Homo sapiens: one gene and its partners. The protein of the gene in region 4 purifies or fractionates together with the protein of the main gene of each other region. This does not show direct contact. Each region holds a gene or a part of one and is shown on either strand. Other genes may lie near its edges.

Region 1 (3,500 bases), on a different chromosome or scaffold from region 4:
AACCTTACGAGTCTTCTAACAAGTAATCAGAGTACCCAAACAGGCTTATAAATGTAAAAAACAATCAAACCAACCAAAAAGAGTACATTACAAATGAGGCCATTTCATTCCTTCCTTCATTCTAAGTTCGAATGAATTTATCAGCTAACAATCCTCCGTTTCTAGGAACCTTCCAAGATTTGTCTTAATAGCCAAAGAACAACATTGATTTTCCCTTAACCCTTTTGTCCCAATTGTCCACAGACAGAACTGAAGTCCTTCCTAGGGACCTACTTCTCAGTTACCCCCAGGGAATCCCCTGACAAAGATGCTCCTCTAATTGAGGCAGGCTCAACCCTTGGCCAGCACCAGGGTCTGTGCCTCACTAGCTCATTCCCCTCCAGGCAGCTGATGGAAACTTCTCCCCTTCTACTACTGATTCTCAAGAAGCAGTCTGGAAGCATGGTGGACAGAATGCGTTTATTTCTCCAGTTTGGCCTATTTTAACTCCTACATACATGAACAGCCAATACAATTAAAGTAGAAACACAATTTTTAATATTCCTTATCACAGCCATTTGAAGCTCCTTTCTGCCCAAAAGGTCTAGACTGCCAGCAGAGGCCCTGAGACAAAGGCACTGCTATAAGATGCAGACTGTATCATGGCACAGTGGGAAAGTCACCATGTGCAAAATCCACGGCTTGCCTGCCTCTATGCCTCAGACAGGAACAAATCATGGGATGGATCTGGGATCTATACAACAGCTCCATGAGGCAGGACAATCATATGAGGTTTTATGCTGAATTACACCCATTTTCCCAATGAGGACACATAAAACCTCCCAAACATGTGAGAAGTTTCAGACCCAAATATAATAAGTGATGTATAGGCATGTGACCTGCGAAGTGAGTTTGTCAACCTTGTTTCACTTGAGTGTGAAAAATGCTTTATAATTTTGATAATCTTACCTTCAGCAGCTTTGTAAGAAATAACTTGCTCCAGGGGCCGGGCGCAGTGGCTCATGCCTCTAATCCCAGCACTGTGGGAGGCTGAGGAGGGCGGATCATGAGGTCAGGAGATCGAGACCATCCTAGCTAACATGGTGAAACTCCGTCTCTACTAAAAATACAAAAAAATGAGCCAGGCGTCGTGGTGGGCGCCTGTAGTCCCAGCTACTCGGGAAGCTGAGGCAGGAGAATGGCGTGAACCCAGGAGGCAGAGCCTGCAGTGAGCCGAGATCGTGCCACTGCACTCCAGCCTGGGCAACAGAGTGAGACTCCGTGTCAAAAAAAAAGAAATAACTTGCTCCCTTAAGGCCATTTCAGTTTCCTCATTCATAAAGTGAAAATACAAACTAAAGCTCGCAGGTTTTCTGATCCTGCCACTTAGAGAAAAAAGGCAAGACTAGGACACTGGTCTCCTGGAGTCCAAGGGACAGTGATTTGCCCAGCTTGTGCTCAGAGAGGGAACGGCAGTGGGGTGGCTTGGGCAGGTCTGTGTCCCCCTGCTGCACTGAATTTCTCTTGCCAGGAGGTCAGAAGGTGAGAGTCACATAAAGGTTGCTTAGTTATAGCAAACCTCAGGGGAAGCATCCTCTGACTGGCCTCAGCACAACAACCAGCTCTGGGTATGCGCAGCATTTTTTTGGCCTATTGGGAAAGCCCATCTAATGGTGTCCTGAAGACTGTATCTACTTCATCATCCTCACTGACTGAACTGTGACACCGGACGGGAATCAGGGAAGAGGGTGGTTGGCTACTACATGGACAAAGTCCTGATCCTTACCCCAACGAGTCACCTTAGAACTGCTCTGATCCTCACCATCAGCCCTGTCGTGCTTCCCTCATGGGATGCAATGCTCATTTGACTGGGCCTCTGCTTTTTAAAATAAGTGGTTTCATGACAGACTTCAGCCTGGTAGCAAAGACCAAAGGATCAGACAGAGGAATCCTTGGATACTGGGCTCAGCTCAGTTTCAGGGGATACCTGTCAGTGGCTCGGTCCTCCAAGCCCCATGGGGGCCAGGCCCAATTCCAAGCCTCTCTGGTTAGGGTGGTAGCTTTCTTAGTCCTCCCCATCCAGGGAGCAGATGGCCAGAGGAGCAGTGTTGTTGGTTCCAATGCTGTAGCAAGGACTAAAATAGGGCAGGAGGCGCCCAGGGAAGGGATAGCGGGGGAAAGTGAAGATGTGGGAGCCACAGTCAGTCACATTGTAGAAAGAAATGTCATGGGCCTCATAATCCACGAAGATTCCCACCCGGCGAGGAGGGACCGGCAAGGACAGGATTGGGTACTCATCGGTGCCTGCTCGGTACTCATTTCCCTTCCTCAGCCTTATCACCCAGAATCCATAGTGGGGGGATAAGTAGACCACCTCCTTCCGGTCTACATTTTGCTTACATACTCCCAGGCCCCACTCAGACCTGTCTCCCACCTCCACCTCCCAGTAGTGCCGGCCTGAGGAGATGCACTGGCTTCCCAGGACGATATTATAGCGGTAAAATCTCTCAGGATTGTCTGGCAGTTTCTGGTTGGTGTCTCCATAGTGCACACGTTTTCTGTCCTCAGACACGATGAGACGGGAGTAAGCAGTATCTGGATCCAAGCGCACATCAGCTAGAAGAAAAGGTCCTGGTTGGTAACAGTGATATAGGGCCAGGGGACATGGGTGAGAGCCCTCTGATAAATTCAGCCACAGATTTCTCAATGATGAAGGGGTGAGGCTGGATGGAGCACCCAGAGGGCACTGAACCATTTTCTATCTCTGGGAGGGGTCCCTCCCACTGTCCACTACAGTCTCCCCCAGGATCCATTACCTGCATAAGTCTTCAGGATCTCTCTTAGCCCCAGCACACGGCAATCTGTCTTCAACTCCAGGGAGATTGGTTCTGGCTGCTGCAAGCTCCAAGATTTGCTCCTGGTAGAGGAGGGTGAACCTCAGGGCCAGGAGTCCCGGCTTTGTCACATGGGCCTTATCTTAGTACAGGGAAGAGGGGCTTGGCCAGGGACATAGTGAACCCCAGCAAAGCAGAGACATGATGGTTACGGTTATTTGGCTGAGCCTCAAGCTGTTTGTGTGCAGAGGTGAGAACACCTGCATGCCCATGCTATGGGAAGGGTTGGATGTATATTTGATTCTGGGAGAGGAAGAAGTGCACACATTTTCTGTCGGACATGAAGGAGTCATGGGCAGTCTTTTATCCTCTTTGAGCAATCTACTTGAAACCACATATTTTACAGCTTCACTTGATATACATTTGATCAAGTACAAAGAAGAAAAAGGAAAGATCAACAAAGATTCCTTAGCCATTACCATGTAAGTGGGACGAGACTGTGGACCAGCACCTGCTTTTCTGTGTGCACCGAGTCTGTGCTCCGTCCCTACTTCTGGCTCTAGTTAGGCCTCACTATCCCCTACAGGGCTGCTTAGAGGCTCCAAGGGTGAGAACATACCTGTTTAACACTTCCTGAATATCCTGGAAGGAGAAAAAAAAATGCAGCATCTGAGTAAGTGCTATTCC
Region 2 (3,500 bases), on a different chromosome or scaffold from region 4:
CAAGCAGTCCTCCTGCCTCGGCCACCCAAAGGGTTGGGATTACAGGCCTAAGCCACTGTGCCTGACCTTGAGGATACTCTTGAAGGTGATGGATATGTTCCTTATCTTGATTGTACTGATATTTTTTTAAGTAGATATTTTTGTCAAATTTATCAAATTGTACACTGTAAATATATGCAATTTGTCCTGTCAATTTTGCTCAATAAAGTCGTTAAAATATATCAGTTTATTCAATTTATTAGTAATCACCCTTATATCAAAGATTAGTGTTTTACTTATTACTATCACTCTACTTGGTGGCAATGGTCACTATTCACTATTTTCAAATACAATATTAAGGTTTTTTAAATTCAGGCATAGTAAATTGAGGTCTATTTTCAAAATATCTTTGAGGTTAAAGGAAGTAACTGCAGGCCAGGTGCGGTGGCTCATGCCTGTAATCCCAGCACTTTGGGAGGCCGAGGCTGATGGATCACCCCCGGTCAGGAGTTCGAGACCCGCCCGGCCAAGATGGTGACACCCTGTCTCTACTAAAAATACAAAAAAGTAGTCGGGCGTGGTGGCGGGTGCCTGTAATCCCAGCTACTCGGGAGGCTGAGGCAGAGAATTGCTTGAACCCAGGAGGCAGAGGTTGCCGTGAACCGAGATTGCGCCACTGCACTCCAGCCTGGGTGACAGAGTGAGAGTCCATCTCAAAAAAAAAAAAAAAAAAAAAAAAGAAGTAACTAAATTTTGAAATCATGTAAATTTGAGAATGTCTTCATGTAACCTTTGACTATGAATATGTTGCCTGAGTTTACCAAAAAAATAAATAAATAAATAAATAAATAAATAAAAAGGAGGAAGGTTGTCAGAACCATAGGGCAAGAACAAAGGTCACACACACAAGTAACATTTTGAGGTCCTAAATTCAACCAGTAGGTTTTAGAAATACCAACTTTTTTTGTTTTTTTGAGACAGGGTCTGGCTCTGTCACCCAGGCTGGAGTGGAGTGGAACAATCAGAGCTCACAGCAGCCTTGAACTCCTGGGCTCCAGAGATCTTCCCACCTCAGCCTCCCAAAGCACTGGGATTACAGATGTGAGCCACCACGCCTAGACTAAAATAAACATTTCTTGATCATATTTTTGGAGAAATTAGATATGCAAATCTAGTTAATATAAGATTAGAACTGTAAGAGAAGTCTTGAGCCTACTTAAAATCAGTTAATCAATATTTAATTTATTGTTGCAGACACATGTAACAGGATATCTGATGCTTCATACACTGTTCAATGCCTTTTAATTTTATGACTTGTATGATAGTTCTCGGCTATTCATTCTTGGGTTTTACTGAAGTTCCAAAAATCAAAGAGCTTTGATTCTTGTAATGGAAATATCTAGAGAAACTTGTGTTTAACTGACTCGGCAGAGATGAAGGCCAAATTCTCATATGTACCTATAACATTACTCAAATACTATTCTTAGTACAAAAAAGTTAAATATACTCTTATCTCTGAACATGAGCTATTCAGACCAAGGCCACTCAGGTCAGAGTAGAATACTCAAAAGCTGGCTTTAGCAGTCCCTTTCCTCCTAAAAAATGGATTATTGCTCTGAGGCCCAGGTATACTCAGCTTCATCCCTCCCAAGGCTATTCTGTCAAAATTCCACTTTTATTTCCACCCAGTCTACCTCTTTCTAGTCTTCAATTATCTGTTTACTCTAATGCCAGATCCAAATTTCTCAAGTTGAGGTAAAGAGAGACAAAATAAGACCATGTATACTAGAACAGGGAAAAATGAATTCATGGTTGTAGAGGATGTGAATCTAGATATGCATTTCCATTCAGTGCTACAGATTTAATATCTAGTAAAATGTTAGCCACATGGTGCTATATCATGTAATTTTTATGTCCTACTTCTCCTATGAAACATTTCTCATCATTCTTGATTTTCCTACAGTCTACTGGCCATATTGTAAATAATTTTTTTTTCTTTTCTTTTTTTTTTTTTTTTTTTTAGAGACAGGGTCTTGCACTCTCACCCAGGCTAGAGTGCAATGGTGCTATCATAGCTCACTGCAGCTTCCAACTCTTGGGCTCAAGCGACCCTCCCACCTCAGCCTCCCAAGTAGTTAGACTACAGATGCATGCAACCTCATGCCCCCTTAATTAAAAAAAAATTTTTTTTGTAGAGAGATGGGGTCTCACTATGCTGACCAGGCTGGTCTTGAACTCCTGGCCTCAAGTGATCCTCCTGCCTCGGCCTTCCAAAGTGCTGTGATTACAGGTGTGAGCCACCATGCCTGGGCAACATAGTAAGGCCCTGTCTCTAAAAAAAAAAAAATTTAAATATAAATTTAAAAATTAAAAAATTGGTTAAAGTTTACTGTAATTATACAGGTTGATAAAATAAACCACTAAATTACAGTCCTCTCTTTGCACTACTTATAATGGAGAAACAGCTCAAGTGTCCAACAAGAGAGTAAGGATGACCAGGCATGGTGGCTCACACCTATAATCCCAACACTTTGTGGGGCAGATGGGAGAATCACTTGAGGCCAGGAGTTCGAGACTAGCCTGGTCAACAGAGCAAGATCCCATCTCTACAAAAAATTAAAAAATTAGCTAGACATGGTGGCATGCATCTGTACCCCGAGCTACACCCGGAGGCTGAGGCAGAAGGATTGCTTGAGCCCAGGAGTTCAAGGCTGCAGTGAGCTATGGTCACACCACTGCACTCCATCCTGGGCAACAGAGCAAGATCCTATCTCTTAAAAAAAAAAAAAAAAGAGAGAGTAAGGCTGAGTGTACTAATTCCACATAATATTACTATTTAAGAAAGAAATGAGTAATATGGACACATTTTTATGAAACACTAAACATGAGGAAGAGAAAGGCCCAATATAGAACTCATTCACTGATGACAACTAGGTAAGAAGTCTGAATCTCTATAATGTATTTTTAGCAAATGTCAAATCAAATATACTAACAGTCATACTGATCATCCAAAGGAAGACCAGGAAAAAGAATGTTTTTCACCACACCGAGTTTAAAAACTGCTGGAGTAACCTAAATGAGAGTCCTTTTGAATTGCCAAAGCTTTTCTTTAGGTACAATACTTATTCAACTAGAGAAACTGAAGCTGTCCTAATGACAGGACAGCTTCAATTTATACAAATAAATTTTCTTGAATAGAAACACAAAGCTTTGGCCGGGCACGGTGGCGTGATCACACCTGTAATCCCAGCACTTTGGGAGGCCAAGGCGGGCAGATCACGAGGTAAAGAGATCGAGACCATCCTGGTTAACACGGTGTAACCCCGTCTCTACTAAAAATACAAAAAATTAGCTGGGCGTGATGGTGGGCGGCTGTAGTCCCAGCTACTCGGGAGGCTTAGGCAGGAGAATGGCGTGAACCCGGGAGGTGGAGCTTGCAGTGGGCCGAGATTGCACCACTGCACTCCAGCCTGGGTGGCAGAGTGAAACTCCATCTCAAAAAAAAAAAAAAAAAAAAAAAA
Region 3 (3,500 bases), on a different chromosome or scaffold from region 4:
CTTCCGCCTCCCATATTCAAGTGATCCTCCCGCCTCAGCCTCCCCAGTAGCACCACCACGTCCGGCTAATTTTTGTATTTTTAGTAGAGATGGGGTTTCACCATGTTGGCCAGGCTGGTCTCAAACTCCTGACCTCAAATGATCCACCCGCCTTAGCCTGCCAAATTGTTGGGATTACAGGCATAAGCCACTCTGCCTGACCAACCAATAGATCTTAAAGAGCTAGGGAATGAAGCTAACCAGCAAAGCCAGGGCTGGAGAGAAACGGGGTCCTGGAGACATTATCTGAACACCTAGATACAGCTGCACCTGAAGTCAGCCCTGCGCTGCATTGTTTGGGTTCTGTGAATCTTCAGTGTGTTCTGAACTGGCTTAGTGCAAAACCCAAAGAACCAGGCAGATGCCCCTGCGATGGCAGACCCCTCATGTACGTACCTGCCTGCTTGCAGGAGAAGGCAAAGACGATGATGTCGTCAAAGGACCAGGTGTAGTCAGGGTGAGGTGGGTAGAAGGCCAGGTTCCTGGACGCCGCCTTCCGCAGGTCGATCAGGAAGGTCGAGTGCACCATGGGAACTGCAAAGCAGCCCCGGCGGTCTCGCTTGCGGATAGGGATGTAGGCAGGTGTGCGCTTGTAGTAGCCCTGTGGGGAGAGAGCGAGAGTTCCGCGTAGGGGTCTTGAAAGGTGAGGATGGAGACCCGTGATAGTGGGCGGCATGAAACAGGACCAGACAGACAGCCAGGCACAGCAGTGTGCGCCTGTGGTCCCAGGACCCCAGACTCAAGCCCAGTGTGGGACCTGTGGCCAGGCATGGCCAATAAGAAAGAGCCTTGTATTTTCCCAGCTTCAGTAATGAGTTCAGAGGTAGTGTGGAGAGGAGACTAGCAATGGCCCAATCAGAATGGATGATGGCTAGACGCTGCTGGGATCACTCTCAAGCTGTCTGAGAATGAACCCACCCAAAGGATGGAGAAAGACAGTTATCCAAACACCTGGATCAAGCCATGCCTGAAGTCCCATCCTGACACCACCACTTGCTAGCTGTGTGACTTTAGGCAAGTCACTTCCTCTCTGTGTTTCTGTTTCCACCTCTGGAATAGCATGGTGGGGGACAATCAAGGACCCTCTATTCTTCCCTCCTGTCTGGCCTCAGAGGGCTGTTTAAAGATTACCATAATGAGTTTTTGTTTTGTTTTGTTTTTGAGACCAAGTCTCACTCCGTCACCCAGGCTGGAGTGCAGTGGCGTGATCTCGGCTCACTGCAACTTCCGCCTCCTGGGTTCAAGTGATTCTCATGCTTCAGCCTCCCGAGCAGCTGGGAGGACAGGCATGTGCCACCATACCCGGCTAATTTCTGTAATTTTTTTTTTTTTTAGTAGAGATGGGGTTTCACCATGTTGCCCAGGATGGTCTCAAACTCCTGAGCTCAGGCAACCCGCCTGCCGCAGTCTCCCAAAGTGCTGGGGTTACAGGTGTGAGCCACCGTGCCCAGCTTCCATGATGATTTTTGTAAAACACACACCACGAGGTTGTGTGACAGTAAGTTACACTCTAGCCACGGCACCCCCCTGCTCAGCCCAGTCCCCACAGTCCCCAGGCCCTCACTCTACCTGGGAAGTCATTCCACACCAGAAGTTGGAGTACGCAGCCCGGGAATCCAGCATGGGGGCGACCACCGTCTTGTTCTCAGCGATGAGCAGGCTCAGTGTGTCAGGGTTGAGGATCAGGTTGTCCGCATCTACAAACTGCAGAACACCCCACAAAGCATCAGCATGGGCTGCCAGGTCAGGCTACCATTCAGAACAGCTGGGGCAAAGGCCAGTGCCCTGGGGGTCTGGCAAAGACCTCTGGAAGCACCCCCTACACCGGATGAAATGAAGCAGGGACCCCGTTTTGGGGGCCTGCAGGATCCCCTGGATCATGGAAATAAAGCAAAGGTCTTCAGTTCCTTCAAAGAAAATTCTAGGCACTGAGATAGCCCTGAGAAATAAATGAACAACCAATGAGCAAGAAGGTAGCAAAACCTTTTTTTTTTTGAGACGGAGTCTCGCTCTGTCACCCAGGCTGGAGTGCAGTGGTATGGTCTCAGCTCGCTGCAACCTCCGCCTCCTGGGTTCAAGCGATTCTCCTGTCTCAGCCTCCCGAGTAGCTGCGACTACAGCCGTGCACCATCACACCCGGGTAACTTTTTGTATTTTTAATAGAGACAGGGTACCATCATGTTGGCCAGGCTGGTTTTAAACTCCTGACCTCATGTGATTCGTCCACCTCGGCCTCTCAAAGTGCTGGGATTACAGGCATGAGCCACCATGCCTGGCCTACTATTTTACTTTTTCTTCATTTTTTATTTTTTAAAGGGATAGCATCTTGCTGTGTCACTCAGGCTGAAGTGCAATGGTGTAATCGTAGCCCACTGCAGCCTGGAGTTTCTGGGCTCAAGTGATCCTCTCATCTCAGCCTCTCAAGTAGCTGAGCGTACAGGCACACGTCACCATGCCTAGATAATGTTTTCATTTTTATTTTTATGTTTGTAGAGATAGGATCCCTCTACATTGCCTAGGGTGGTTTTGAACTCCTGGGCTCAAAGCGATCCTCCCCATGGCCTACAATAGTTCTGAGATTACAGGTCTGAGCCACTGCACCTAGACTAAAATTAAATATATATATATAAAATCACACATAGAAAATGATTAGGTCCGGACGTTCCCCCTCTACCAGGATGTAAAGACACAGAAGTCATGATATATCACAGAACTACCAGAAGGTTTTTTGTTTTTGTTTTTGTTTTTTTGAGATGGCGTCTCCTGTTGCATAGGCTGGAGTGCAGCGGCGTGATCTCGGCTCACTGCAACCTCCACCTCCCATGTTCAAGCAATTCTCCCTGAGTCTCCCAAGTAGCTGGGATTACAGACACATGCCACCACGTCAGGCTAATTTTTGTATTTTTTGGTAGAGATGGGGTTTCACCAGGTTGGCCAGGCTGGTCTCGAACTCTTGATTTCAAGTGATACGCCTGCCTCGGCCTCCCAAAGTGCTGGGATTACAGGTGTGAGCCATTGTGCCCGGTCTGGATTTTTTTTCTTTTACTGCTGGTCCACAGAGATGCTTTCTGTTACCCAGGCAGTATCGTTTAGAATATTTGGATTAACTGCCATGAACAACAACAAAAACTAGAATTCCAGTATCCCCTGGCAACGTGAGAATACCATTTCCACATGGCAACCTTCAGTTGCAGAGGGGAGGTGGCTGGGTCTTAGGACAAGCCCTGTGGTCATGTTACACACCCCATCCGGTCCCTCTGGATGTTTGAATCTGTGACCTTTGAATATTAATGCAGAACAAACAGCCAGATCACTGTGGCAGTTCCTCAAAAAGCTAAACATAGAATTACTACATGATCCAGGAATTCCATTCCTAGGTATGAACCAAGAGAATTGAAAGAAAGGACTCAAACAGCTTCTTTGTTTGTTTGTTTGTTTTTGAGACAGAGTCTTGCTCAGTC
Region 4 (3,500 bases):
AGGGATTGTCGAGTGCTGATGAAATCTCCTTCCTCAGTCAGGCTATGGAAAGCAAGCACATCCCCATCTGTGCCTCTGTTTTTCCCACTAGTAGTCATAGACTAGAGGGTTCAGAGGCGTGACTCAGAGTTTTATCTGCAGAAGTCAGAGCTGGGCAGGTGGATCTCACCATCTGCTCTGATTTGTTTACTGGCTATATTATAGCAGTGGAAAACTGTGTGTCCAGTCCTCTTAGGAAAAGTCCCAAAAGGATATTTTAAAAATCCTCTGCATACAGCTGAGCTGTCCTGCACAGCAGCCAGTAGCCACATGTGACCCTCAAGCCCGTGGAATGTTGCTAGTGCTACTGAGGAACTGAATTTTTAAATTTTAACTATTTGAATTAACCTTTACTAAATTCAGTTATTTGAAAATGTTAAAGTATGTTTGGAGCAACTTGAATGCATGAATCTGCTTTTTCAACTATAAATTTTATGATCTCTAAGTACAGATTAAATATTTTGGATGAAAATTTAGCACCTGAATGGAGATGTGTAAATGTAAATTACATAGCAGATTTCAAGTACTTATTATGAAAAGCACAATGTAAAATATCTCAATAATTTTTGTATAGATTACAAGTTGGGATGATTAATTAGATTAAAGGAGATCTATTAAAATTAACTTCATTCGTTTAGTTTTACTTTAAGGTGACTTCTTTTAAAAGTTTAAAATTAAGTATGTGGCTCACCTTATATTTCTATTGGTTAGTGCTGGTATAGAGTATTTTTAGTACAGAGGGTGGGTGCTGGAAGTCCCAACCACAAATCATTCTGAGGACCCTTCCTATGCAAAGAGCAAAGCAGGCAATGTTTTTTGCGTGTATTGACACCTTGTTTTCTGGGGCCCCAGTTCCGTCATGCCCCCTCCACTACTCTCTCACTATCCTCGCTAGGAAAATACCAAGTATTACCATATACAACATCTTAGTGAGCAGTTGGTGTGGGGATCTGCTTCACTTTGGGCGTTTTCATTTTATATTTAATCTTAAACACAAGAATGAAATGTGGAGTACGGAGTTTTGGGACCTCAGGAGGGAGAAAGTGGGTGCATCTGGGGTCCTCAGATTTACAAGCCAGCCCTGATATCCCCAGTTCCTTCCCAATCTTGCCTGTGACTTCCTGGTTCAGTTTCTCTAAAAAATATCACCGTGGGTCTTTTCTTCTTCTAATTCCCACAGGGTGAAAAAGGTGACCTGGGTATGATGGGCTTGCCAGGGTCAAGAGGACCAATGGGCTCCAAGGTCAGTGTGGGGTCCAAATGGACGTTCCCAGATCTCTGTCAGGCTCTGGAGCAGCTGCTGTCTACAAACATAGGGACTGGGTGGGGCTGCAGTCCCGGACTAGGGAATGTCGCGGATATTGGAGAGCCTGCCTTTACCAGCCCTTTGGAGAACATCATGCCCTGGGATGCAGGGGCATAGGGATGCCATTCCTGCTGTTCTCTTGGGCAGGAAGAACCAAGCTTCTGGACATCAGAGCAGATGGAAACCTTTGATCAGGACTTTGCAGAGTGATAAAAGCAATGTTCCTTTTAGGCCTGGTATAACCACAACCCTCTGGGACATCTTTGTGTTTGGTGCTGCAACCCCACTAAAACTCACAGTGCAATGTGGAGACATACCTTACCACCACATTCAGGGATTCCTTCTATTCTTCCACCAAACTCAGAAGTCCTACAGGGCTGATTGTAAATGTACCTTCTGCTTTCTTTTAGGGCTACCCTGGATCCAGAGGGGAAAAGGTTAGTGCTTTTCTTGGATGGTGTCCTAGAGCCTGGTCTGGGCTACTGGCTCTGGAATCAGAGACATGCAGAGAATGGGTCCAGGTCTCTCTTTAGTCTGCAACTGAAGCCACCATCCCTAGCTATTCCCCACCCTTTGTCAGTGGACTGAGAGAGAAGTGAGGGACCTCCTGAAGCAGGGCAAGCTGGTAAGAGAAGGGCTCCCCATAGAGGCAGAGGCCCCTCGTGTGGAGCACATAAGCAAATGAAGGCCGTGCCAGGTAGAGAATAAGCACAGTTTGCACAGAGTGCTGGAGGAAATTGGTGATGCATGTCTTTAGGCCAAGCTTTCACCACCACACAACCTTCTGACCTGGCCAAAAACCAAATCAAAACAGCATCAACCTGTGGACAAATTTCCTACAGGATGAGAGAGGATTTGGGGCCCAGAATTTTCCGTGAGTTGTCCTTTATGAATGCAAGAGGTCTTTGGGGTTCAACAAGAAGTAGATCACAAAGCATTCCTTCCCTGGAGAAGTCACCTGACATATCTGAGCCTATTTCTTCACTTGTAAAATGAGGGTTTTGGTTTAGGGAGCTTTTCAGTTTGAAATGCTTGAATTTCCCTCCCAGGATATTAACTCATTGACTTTCTCCTATGGTTTCTTCCTAGGGATCCAGAGGTGAAAAGGGTGACCTGGGTCCCAAAGGAGAAAAGGTAATGGAGAAAACCTTTCCATAGAAATGATAAATGTCAGTGCAAGTAGCAGCCCCCACCCACCCCCATCCGTGGACTGATGATGGACTGATGGACAGGCCTCCATCTTGAAAATGACCAACAAAGCCTGTCCACAGCCATTTCAGGTGTTATTTCAGAGGTGATCACAATTATTTGTTGCTCTTTTCACAGGGTTTCCCAGGATTTCCTGGAATGTTGGGGCAGAAAGTAAGTAACCTTGAGGTAGTGAAAATAGGCCTCAATAAAAATATCAGGTCCTCCAAGCACAACAAAAAGAACTCTGCCTCCTTGTCTATCAGGCAGGGATGGTGGGTTTAACCATGGAAACTTCTATTTTGGGACGGGAAGCAAGTTGCTTTTCACCCTGGGGAGAGGGTGGCAGGATGGTCTGGAGCCTCCCTCTAGCTCAATGGGAAGGAAAGGACAACCCATCTGGGTTTTGGGTTTTTGTTTGTTTGTTTGTTTTTTTGCTTTTTTGCTTTTCCTACCTCTTAGAGGGCTGTGGTCCTATTCAAATGCAGAAACCTTTCTCACAGGGGACTCAGATCTGAGCCACAACGGTCAAAGCCCCTGTCAGCACACAGGCCTCAGTGTAAGGCACAGGTGTCTTTAGCTTAAGGTCACTGTGCCTTATTGCAGTCCTTCTTCAAGGGCGGTGCACATACTGCCAGAAGGACACAAAAGTATTTGAACTGAAGACTGCTAACATTGTTTAAGAGTTAAATTTTGTATTTAAATAGTTAAATATTGGCCAGGCATGGTGCCTCATGCCTGTAATCCCAGCACTTTGGGAGGCCGAGGTGGGCAGATGGCTTGAACCCAGGAGTTCGAGACTAGCCTGGGCAACATGGTGAAATCCCATTTCTACCAAGAAAAATATACAAAACATTAGCTGGGCATGGTAGTTCGCACCTGTAGTGCCAGATACTTAGGAAGGTGAGGCGGGAGGGTGGCCTGAGCCCAGGAGTCAAAGCTGCGGTAAGCCATGATTGCACCACTG
Region 5 (3,500 bases), about 170 Mb from region 4:
ACTCCTAGGCAACCTGGCCATGGTGCCCGGATGCAGGCAGTATTCAAGAGTTTCTTCCAAAGTCACCAGGGTGAAAAGCCATTCTACTACAACCTCTACATGACCTTTTAAAGTGTACAACTTATAGGACAGTCCTTTCTGGAGTACTGTGGAGGGTGAATCAAAGCTTCCAGTGTAAGTTTATTGTCTGGCGAAAACACCAGAGCCAAAAATTCCACCAAGGCCCTGGAAAGACTGAAGTCCCCTCTGTCTCATACAGTAATCATCCATGAGATCTCCCGGAGCCTGGGTGATCATTACGCCCATGATACCTGAGGCAGCGTGGACTCTGCCAGGGGCTCCTCAGACCCAAAGTGGAGCTCACTTTGGAGAGTCGGAGCTCATGGCCGTTAGCACCTAAGGATGTGGCTGAAAGGCACAGAGCAAGAAAGGGCTTCAGAGACCAGGCACAGGTTAATTTTAGAACTGGAGCACACGTGAGAGTTGTAGTTTCACCACCAAGAAGCTTATTCTCTCTAAGCTTTTGAATTTGCAGCAACTTAATTGTGTGTGTGTGTGTGTGTGTGTGTGTGTGTGTGTGTGTTTGGGGGAGGAGGTGAACTGGGCTTTGATAGATACATGAAATGATGAAAAACCAAGAAAGAGAGCTGGGTGTGGTGGCACGTGCCTGTGGTCCCAGCTCCCCGGGAGGCTTGAAGGATCGCCTGAGCCTAAGAGTTTGAGGCTCCAGTGTGCTATCATCACATCTGTGAATAGCCACTGCCCTATATCCTAGACAACATGGTTAGACCATGTCTCTAAGAAGAGAGAGAGAGAGAGAGAGAGAGAAAACAACCCAAAACAAGAAAGATAGATTGATAGATTGAGGCAACACAAGCATCCTTAGGAAGAGAAGGAAGATCTGATGACTGACATTAACCTGTTAATTTATACCATGGCTCTGTACAAAAATAAAAAGGTTCTCATAAGATTAACAATTTAAATAAATATTTGATAGAACATTCTTTCTCATTTTTATAGCTCATCTTTAGGGTTGATATTCAGTTCATGCTTCCCTTGCTGTTCTTGATCCAGAATTGCAATCACTTCATCAGCCTGTATTCGCTCCTGCAAAAAAGACAATTTACACATTTCTGTTACAAGCATAATAATCAGTCTCATCAGCAGACGCTTCCCAAACACTTCCTGGCATCCATCTGTACATGGGTTGATGCTATATCCAGTTAAGCATTGAACACCTCCTCTTCATCCCCAGACAGATGCCTTCTCCTAACATTCCTGGGTCCTAAGCAATTACTTTCTAAGATTTTCTCTCCTGCAAAGAACGACTGTATGTTCAACTGCTTCCTACTCTTTCTAATTCATGGCCCCATAGCCATCTCCAACTCAGTTCAGTGGTCAAGCTGAATTCACCATTTTCTCCCCAAGAACCTGCTCTGTTCTTCACGTAGGCTCTCTCTCGGTAAAGACCAACATCGCTCACCTATTTGCCTTAAAAGCCCGACCATGGTTTCCTGCATCTGATAAGTCACCTATTCTGTTCTATCTGCTGTCTCTGCCCCTTTCTCCTCAATGCACTATTGTTGCCGGAGTTTAGGTCAGGGTTTCTCAATTTTGGTCTGATTGACATTTTTAGACCAGATAATTATTTGTTGGGGGGTGGGAGGGTGGTGCTGCCCTGTGCCCTGCAGGATGCTCAGCGACACCCCGTCCTCTCTACCTACCACAGGTGTCAGTAACAACCTCCCCCACCAACCCCCAGATATTGCCAAATGTCCACTAGAGGGCAACATTGCTCCCTCTTTTTTTTTTTTTTTTTTTTTGAGATGGAATTTTGCTCTTGTTGCCCAGGCTGGAGTCCAGTGACGCGATCTCGGCTCACTGCAACCTCTGCCTCCCGGGTTCAAGCGATTCTCCTGCCTCAGCCTCCCAAGTACCTGGGTTTACAGGCGCTCACCACCATGCCCGGCTAATTTTTTATATTTTTACCATGTTGACCAGGCTTGGTCTCAAACTCCCGACCTCAGGTGATCCACCCGCCTCGCCCTCCCAAAGTGCTGGGATTACAGGAGTGAGCCACTGCACCCGGCCAATCGCTCCCTCTTGAGAGCCACCATTGTAAGCCCTCATCATCTCTTAATTACTGCCGCAGCCTCCAAATTGCTCTCGCTGTTTCACTACTCACCCTCACATGCTTCTAATGAATCCTACTGGCTTATATCTGATTATATCTCTTTCCTACTCACAGCTCTTCAATGGGTCCCTACTGCTTGAAGTTTCAGGTCTACTTTTCTTGGTGTGCTTATAAGAAGTTGCTTTACACCTGTCTCTTCTTTTTTTTTTCTTTTATTTATTTATTTATTTTTTATTATTATACTTTAAGTTTTAGGGTACATGTGCACAATGTGCAGGTTAGTTACATATGTATACATGTGCCATGCTGGTGCGCTGCACCCACTAACTCGTCATCTAGCATTAGGTATATCTCCCAATGCTATCCCTCCCCCCTCCCCCCACCCCACAACAGTCCCCAGAGTGTGATATTCCCCTTCCTGTGTCCATGTGTTCTCATTGTTCAATTCCCACCTATGAGTGAGAATATGTGGTGTTTGTTCTCTCTTCTTATTCATACCTTTCTCTCTTCTTTAGGTTTATTTTGCCTCCCTTCTCCTCACCTTATATTCCAACTTCTTAACTTACCTCAAGCTCCCTGAATGTAACACTTTCAAAAGAATTCCCTAATCCGATTCTGAATTAAGTGTTTCTCTGGATGCTCCCATTATATTCTACGCTTTCTTTTATTCCTCACATTAATCCATCAGCAGGTGCAGCTGGTCTACCTCCAAATTGTATCTCAAATCTTCCATCTCTTTTTACCTTCTCTATTACTACTCCAGTCCAAGACCACATGTTAGCTAAAGTAATCTTCTGTATCCTGTAACTCTCCAGGACTGGAGGAGATATGTGTGTGTGTGTGTGTGTGTGTGTGTGTGTGTGTGTGTGTGTGTGTGTGTGTTGGGGTGTGGGGACTACATGACTTTCCACTAGTTAGAATACAATTCGCATTTCCCAATCAGCCTGTGGAATCCGACTCCTGCCGCCTCCACGTCCTCTACTGAAGCCACTCTCCCTCTTGTCTGCCATATTCCAGATGCTCTGGCTTTCTTTGTTTCTTGGTGACTCCAAACATCTTATTGTCTCTGGGCCTTTGCAGCTTGTCCTCTGCCTGGAATACTCTCCTCCAGACATTTATCCTAGTGGACTTCTAATTTATTAGGTTTCAGCTCACATGCCACTTGTTTGGCGAGGCCTCACAATTTGCCGCTCCTACCCTTTCACTCCAGAATCAGTTGTCTTGTTCCATTTTCCACACATCATTGGTCACCGTGTGAAAAATCTCTCGATTATTTATTTATTTTTTACTTTTTTGGGATCTGTTTCCTTCCACTAGAATGTAAGCTCCAGAAGAGCAGGGCATCTTATCTTCTTGGTCACTACTG
Region 6 (2,622 bases), about 130 Mb from region 4:
CTGTAAAATTATCAAAATAACTTAGGTAACAGCTTTGTCAATGATACAATGACGAAACAAAGTAATGTAAGGTCAGTAGACTCCTTTCCTACTTCTTAAATGTATATGTGAAGTTTAGCTATAAAGTAAATAAAATTGACTTCCTAAGCCCTCACATCCTTTCTTAAAAATGAGTCTTTTTTTACAGTGACCCTTTAGGCAGTCTCAGCTGCTTGATGAGCATACACTTAGCATATCTGCTGTCTGTATTACCAAACACTAAAAACAAGCTTTCCCCGCCCTTCCTCACTTCTATTTGTAACACTCAAAAGTTTTTGAATGATTGCTTTTCATTATTTCATCACCCACTAACTTAAGTTCTTCCTTATACTTTAAGCTTCCCTCTCCCTTATCAGCTCATTACCTGGGGGACATAACCGTGCAGAGGCAGTAATATTCCAGAGTATTCTGCTAAAATGGCATGTCTGTTCTCAGAGGGAAAGAAACACATCTAACCACTGGCAGTAGTATTTCCTGCCAAGTCTTTGACACTGAATGCAAATGCAAAACTGAATTACACCTAAGGCACTCAGATCCCTCCTTCCTATCTTTACACACAAAAACAGTTTTCAGAGCCAGATAACATTTGCCTTAGAATTTTCACCACAGCTCACTGTGAAAACGCAAGGAATAAAAAGTGGCCTTGGAAAAGAGTGACATCACTCTGTAAAGACATGTGTTACCTAACAAACTCTGGCCTGAGGACATCGACCCTTAGGGAACATCCAGTGTAATTACATGCATAAATGAGAAACCCGCCCAAACTAATGAAATTACTTAAGTGTTAAAAAAATTGGTTGGTGGGAGAAGTAGACTGAAATCAGAGCCTTGGCTAGCCAATTTATCTAAGTCTAGAACTCAGAGACATATGAGAAAAAGTATATAACCCCTCCGAATTCTCTGAGTATCTACTTAACCCCCACATACATTTTAGTTCTTAGTGTGAAATTACAACTTACATGATGTTTTCCCCCAGACCATTTGCCGTAATGTTCCATTTCTTCTACCAATTCATCACAGGCTTTTTCAGAAAATATGGGGAACCAAAAGACATCTGGACAGGGCTATAAAATATGCATCATCGTTAGAAGACATAATAACTTCTGTGTCTTAATAGTCTAAAATAGTTATTTTAATATGTGTAAAATAAAAAATCCTGTATGACTAGGAAACATAGTTTTCTGTCATGGTTTATTGACAGTATTTTTTTTCTCATGGTACATAAATAATGGTGCACCTCAGAATTGATGACATCTTACATTCTCAAAAATTAGGTATTAACAATAGTTTTGAACACTAAGCTAAAAGAGAATTCATGTTTCAAAGATGTCTCTGAGAAAAGACTCTTCCAGAAAGACAGCCCAGTTTCTTCCAAAGATAAGCTTTCACTGCAAGAGTTCTACATCAGAGATCTGTCAACAGTTTCTATTTTTAGTGGTTTCAGAAAGCTATGACACATAGGAGCATGCTTTTTAAAAAGGCATGCTTTTAAAATGTTAATTTCTATGTTCTACATTTTACAACTGTATGTTCCTTAATGCTATTTAATCAGTAATTGAATCAAATAAATTTTACCTAAAAGGTAGTTTCTCCACTTTCACATCTTCTGTGAAAGTAGTATTAATAATATTTCTTCTGGAAAATAACAGCAAAATTTTCTATACTTTGTAATCATTAATACAAACCTGTTCAACTATATTTTCAGTGAAAATCTTTGAATAATCACGGTTTATATACTTTTCCTTCCAGTCCTATAAAAAGAAGTACATATTAAAACAAATATCTTTATAAATACTTCACTGAAAAGTATAAAGCATATGCATTTTAGAAATTATTCAACTTATAAATGATTATGTATAGTGGACAAAATAGTAATTTTCAGAAATCACAGTATATAGCCTAATCTTTGCCTGGTTCTGAATATGCTTATGTCATTCTATGAAATACAAAATTTTTATTTATGAAATATTGTACCTCAGGATTTTAAAACTTAAGTAATCTTACAGTGAATAGATTTACACATTTTACAGATGCTCCTTGACTCACGATGGGGTTATGTCCCAATAAACCCGTGGGAGGTTAAAAACACACAGTACCCCGATAAATCCAACATAAAGCTGAAAATTCCTAAGTAAAGCCACCGTAAGTTGGGGACCATCAGTATTTTAATATATACACAGAGTAGGTAAATAAAGGTGTGCTTAAAGGTAAAAGACAAGGAGCAAAATTCTACCAACAAGTATTTGTAAAAATGAATTAGTGAACTAATTAACTAGGGTCTGTCTTATATGTCTATAGTAAATTACTCTAAATTTGATTTTTTAAATGAGTTTTTAAAATTTCTGCCTTCACTTCAGTTATTAATATTTATCAAGGAATAATCATGAGTTTACTAGCACTTGCACTTCTTTCAGTTACTAAAATTAAGGGTTAGGGCTCTATATTAAAAAATGGTTTCTCTTTATTCTAATCCATGAATTTGATTCTTTTTGACCAATCTCTGGCATAAAATCCACACACAAAGATATCTCAACTTTTTTCAACAAAAGCTAAAGAATTATTTTATTGGGACAAGTTCTTTAT
Region 7 (3,500 bases), on a different chromosome or scaffold from region 4:
TGTTGGCCAGGCTGGTCTCGAACTCCTGACCTCGAGTAATCCACCTGCCTCTGCCTTCCAAAGTGCTGGGATTACAGGCGTCAGCCACCGCGGCCGGCCCTTGTTTTTTATTTTCTTGAGAAAGGGTCTCCCTCTGTTTCCAGGCTGGAGTGCAGTGGTGGAAACATGGCTCACTGCAGCCTCAACCTCCCAAGTTCAAGTGATTCTCCCACCTCAGCCTCCGTAGTAGCTGGGACCACAGGCACGCACCACCGTGCCCAGCTAATATTTTAAGTTTTTTGTAGAGATAGGCTCTTGCTACGTTGCTCAGGCTGATCTTAAACTCCCAGGCTCAAGCAGTCCTCCTACCTCAGCCTCCCAAAGTGGTGGCATCAAAAGTGTGAGCCACTGCAGCCAGCCTCATGGCACCTCTGACTGGTGACCACTCCAAACCCCTGAGAGTAGGGGGCTTGGGTCTACCTGGGCCCCGGGTCGGAGGAGGCGGGGGGCTGCAGGCTGGCGGGACTCACACTCGCTTCCGCTGCACCAGCTCCACGTAGTCCTCGGAGCGGGCGTAGTACTCATCGGGGCTCAGGGCGCCCCAGAAGTTGGACCACAGCTTGCCGTGGCGGGACAGCATGGGGGCGATCACCTTCCTGCGGACAGGTGGGGGTGAGGGCTGGGCAGACGGGAGCAGGCCTGGGGAGCCCGGTGCCCAGGGCAGGAGTGGGGTTCCCGGGGCCTGTTGGGGTGCCCTCCGGCTGCGGGGAGAGGGGGTAAGCCACCTGTTCTCCTCAATGAGGATACGCAGGGTCTGCAGGTTGGTGAGGACAGCGTCGGCGTCCAGGCTGAAGTAGAACTCACACTCGGGGTCCTGCCGACACAGGTCCCTGGAGGTGAGAGGCGAGCTGAGACGGCGGCAGGTGGGGAGGCGGTGTGGATGGGGTAACTGGCCCATGCCCCCAGGAGAAGAGGAGGGAGGCAGTGTCTATCCTTCCTTCCCCAGGCTCTCTGCTGTCTGGGTGAGCTGGCAAGGGCAGGAGTGACAGCATGGGGGCTGCAAGGATGCGAATGGGGAGGCCCAGGAGGGGCTGGATGGGTGACAGGTGAGGCAAGGGCCAGGCAGCAGGTGGCAGCACCCCTGACCCTACAGCCTCATCCCACCCTCTCCTCCCCGCAAGCACCCGCTCACATGGCCATGTCCCTGGCCTCGCCTGGGCTCAGAGCCTCCTCCGGCCCCACGAGCTTCACAGCTGAGAAGTGGTCCTGGAGCTGCGGCCAGGAGTCAGCGATGTGGGGTTCATGGAAGACCTCCTGGGAGGGGAAGACATAGGGGGATGGGCTCAGAGGGCAGGGAGGCGGCACCTGAGGGATGGGGGTGCAGGAAGGAGATGGGGGTGGGGGCACGAGAGTTCTGATCAGGGCAGGGAAAGGGTCCCTCAGGAGAGGCTCCAACAGGGGAGTCTCACGTTGTTGTGCAGGAAAAGGGTGACCCTGTCGGGGGGATAGTCCAGGAGTAGCAGCCGCTGCAGGAAGCGGGGCAGAAACGGAGTAGGCTGTTCCACAAACACGGCCAGAAACACCCGGGGGGGAGGCTGGAAGATGCAACACGCAGGGACTCAGAGAGAAGCCCGGACTTCCCTGCTGCCCCCACCCAACCTCCACCCTGACAGGTGCAGGGACCCAGGAGCGATGCCCCCACCGCCCCCCAGTCCGCTGTCCTTGTACCTCCTGCTCAGCACGCTGCCCTCTCGTGCCCCTCCCTGGCACCCCCACCTCACCTGCCCCCCCGGGAGTGTCCTCCGGTCCTGGTTGCAGAAGCCACAGCCTCCCTCAGGAGTCCAGCCATTGGGGACGTAGTTTCCCAGGTAGTTGAGCTGCAGCTGTTGGGGACAGACTGAGGCTGAGTGGCTGAGGCCTCCAGGGGTGGAGGTGGGGGTCAGGCACCTCTGATATGGGGGCTGGGAAGGGCCAGCTTCTCAGAAGGGTTGGAGGTGCCTGGGGGTTGGGGCAGGGCGGGGCGGGGGTTGAGACCACTGGTGGCACCTTAGTGGGACCGTTTCCATGGACCACAATGGGGAGCGTGTCGTAGGCCACGTTCCGGATACGCACACGGTTCCGATCAAACTTTAAAACCACTTCATCTGGGGAAGAAAAAGGCCAGGCTTCAGACCCCCTTTCTCTGGGAGCTACCAAGCAACACATTCTTCTAAATATGGGGTCCCAAATTCTCCAGGGAATAAAGGGACACCAGGGCTATCCTGGAGTGTGGCTCGTTGTGGGCAGGAACCTTTGGGTTCTGACCAGGCTGCTGGCCCAGAGAGCTCCACTGCCTACTACCTGCGTGATCACACCGCAGCTGGGCGAGGAAGGGGAGGGTGAGCTGAGCGGGAGGCCAGTAGGAGCCTCAGCATCCCTACCCCTCCTCATATTCTCTCTCTCCTTGTTTTTTTTTTTTTTTATTTTTATTTTTTGAGATGGAGTCTCACTCTGTCACCCAGGCTGGAGTGCAATGGCGTGGTCTCGGCTCACTGCAACCTCTGCCTCCTGAGTTCAAAAGATTCTCTTGCCTCAGCCTTTCAGGTAGCTGAGACTATGGGCACATGCCACTACACCTGGCTAATTTTTGTATTTGTATTTTTTGTTTTTTATGCTGAGATGGAGTCTCACTCCCAACACGCAGGCTGGAGTGCAGTGGCACGATCTTGGCTCATTGCAACTTCCACCTCCAGGGTTCAAGCGATTCTCCTTCCTCAGCCTCCCGGGTAGCCAGGATTACAGGCGCGCACCACCATGCCCGGCTAATTTTTGTGTTTTTAGTAGAGACAGGGTTTCACCATGTCGACCAGGCTGGCCTTGAACTCCTGACCTCAGGTGATCCACCTGCCTCGGCCTCCCAAAGTGCTAGGATTACAAGCATGAGCCACCACACCCAGCCTAATTTTTGTATATTTAGTAGAGACTGGGTTTCACTATGTCAGCCAGGCTGGTCTCAAACTTCTGACTTCATGATCTGCCCGCCTCAGCCTTCCAAAGTGCTGGGATTACAGATGTGAGCTGTCGCACCTGGCCTTTTTTTTTTTTGAGAAGGAATCTCACTCTGTCACCCAGGCAGGAGTGCAGTGGCGCAATCTCGGCTCACTGCAAGCTCTGCCTCCCGGGTTCCAGTGATTCTCCTGCCTCAGCCTTCTGAATAGCTGGGATTACAGGCACCCGCCACCACGCCCAGCTCATTTTTGTACTTTTTTTTAGTAGAGACGGGTTTTCGCCATGTTGGCCAGGCTGGTCTCAAACTCCTGACCTCAAGTGATCCTCCTGCCTGGGCCTCCCAAAATGTTGGGATTACAGGCGTGAGGCACCGTGCCTGGCCTCTCTCTCTCCCCGTTCTCCCCATCCCCTGAGGCAAGTCACCAACCCCTCCACAAGCTGTTTTCCTCATCTGTACAAGAAGGATAACCAGGGACCTTCCCTTTGTTAAATGGAATCACAGAAGTAGACCGGGCACAGTGGCTCATGCCTGT

The links.
Region 1: the proteins of COLQ (region 4) and TRIM68 purify together in Homo sapiens (co-immunoprecipitation; 3 studies listed by BioGRID and IntAct, with this or other methods). This does not show direct contact.
Region 2: the proteins of COLQ (region 4) and P4HA1 purify together in Homo sapiens (co-immunoprecipitation; 3 studies listed by BioGRID and IntAct, with this or other methods). This does not show direct contact.
Region 3: the proteins of COLQ (region 4) and COLGALT1 purify together in Homo sapiens (co-immunoprecipitation; 2 studies listed by BioGRID and IntAct, with this or other methods). This does not show direct contact.
Region 5: the proteins of COLQ (region 4) and P3H2 purify together in Homo sapiens (affinity purification with mass spectrometry; 2 studies listed by BioGRID and IntAct, with this or other methods). This does not show direct contact.
Region 6: the proteins of COLQ (region 4) and PLOD2 purify together in Homo sapiens (affinity purification with mass spectrometry; 2 studies listed by BioGRID and IntAct, with this or other methods). This does not show direct contact.
Region 7: the proteins of COLQ (region 4) and PLOD3 purify together in Homo sapiens (co-immunoprecipitation; 2 studies listed by BioGRID and IntAct, with this or other methods). This does not show direct contact.

Annotation. Positions count from the first base shown.
Region 1 is NC_000011.10:4,598,232-4,601,731, forward strand, and holds the end of TRIM68 (E3 ubiquitin-protein ligase TRIM68), read right to left. Parts: intron 3,456-3,500; coding exon 3,433-3,455; intron 2,897-3,432; coding exon 2,796-2,896; intron 2,596-2,795; coding exon 2,045-2,595; 3' UTR 441-2,044; downstream 1-440. UniProt on the Homo sapiens protein: Functions as a ubiquitin E3 ligase. Acts as a coactivator of androgen receptor (AR) depending on its ubiquitin ligase activity.
Region 2 is NC_000010.11:73,090,367-73,093,866, forward strand, and holds part of P4HA1 (prolyl 4-hydroxylase subunit alpha-1 isoform 2 precursor), read right to left. Parts: intron 1-3,500. UniProt on the Homo sapiens protein: Catalyzes the post-translational formation of 4-hydroxyproline in -Xaa-Pro-Gly- sequences in collagens and other proteins.
Region 3 is NC_000019.10:17,565,649-17,569,148, reverse strand, and holds part of COLGALT1 (procollagen galactosyltransferase 1 precursor), read right to left. Parts: intron 1,744-3,500; coding exon 1,609-1,743; intron 641-1,608; coding exon 436-640; intron 1-435. UniProt on the Homo sapiens protein: Beta-galactosyltransferase that transfers beta-galactose to hydroxylysine residues of type I collagen. By acting on collagen glycosylation, facilitates the formation of collagen triple helix. Also involved in the biosynthesis of collagen type IV.
Region 4 is NC_000003.12:15,473,207-15,476,706, reverse strand, and holds part of COLQ (acetylcholinesterase collagenic tail peptide isoform I precursor), read left to right. Parts: intron 1-1,219; coding exon 1,220-1,282; intron 1,283-1,755; coding exon 1,756-1,782; intron 1,783-2,434; coding exon 2,435-2,479; intron 2,480-2,671; coding exon 2,672-2,707; intron 2,708-3,500. UniProt on the Homo sapiens protein: Anchors the catalytic subunits of asymmetric AChE to the synaptic basal lamina.
Region 5 is NC_000003.12:189,956,898-189,960,397, forward strand, and holds part of P3H2 (prolyl 3-hydroxylase 2 isoform a precursor), read right to left. Parts: intron 1,108-3,500; coding exon 1,015-1,107; 3' UTR 1-1,014. UniProt on the Homo sapiens protein: Prolyl 3-hydroxylase that catalyzes the post-translational formation of 3-hydroxyproline on collagens. Contributes to proline 3-hydroxylation of collagen COL4A1 and COL1A1 in tendons, the eye sclera and in the eye lens capsule.
Region 6 is NC_000003.12:146,071,563-146,074,184, forward strand, and holds part of PLOD2 (procollagen-lysine,2-oxoglutarate 5-dioxygenase 2 isoform 1 precursor), read right to left. Parts: intron 1,791-2,622; coding exon 1,725-1,790; intron 1,104-1,724; coding exon 999-1,103; intron 1-998. UniProt on the Homo sapiens protein: Forms hydroxylysine residues in -Xaa-Lys-Gly- sequences in collagens. These hydroxylysines serve as sites of attachment for carbohydrate units and are essential for the stability of the intermolecular collagen cross-links.
Region 7 is NC_000007.14:101,211,082-101,214,581, forward strand, and holds part of PLOD3 (multifunctional procollagen lysine hydroxylase and glycosyltransferase LH3 precursor), read right to left. Parts: intron 2,124-3,500; coding exon 2,026-2,123; intron 1,863-2,025; coding exon 1,761-1,862; intron 1,575-1,760; coding exon 1,449-1,574; intron 1,294-1,448; coding exon 1,172-1,293; intron 870-1,171; coding exon 765-869; intron 636-764; coding exon 510-635; intron 1-509. UniProt on the Homo sapiens protein: Multifunctional enzyme that catalyzes a series of essential post-translational modifications on Lys residues in procollagen. Plays a redundant role in catalyzing the formation of hydroxylysine residues in -Xaa-Lys-Gly- sequences in collagens.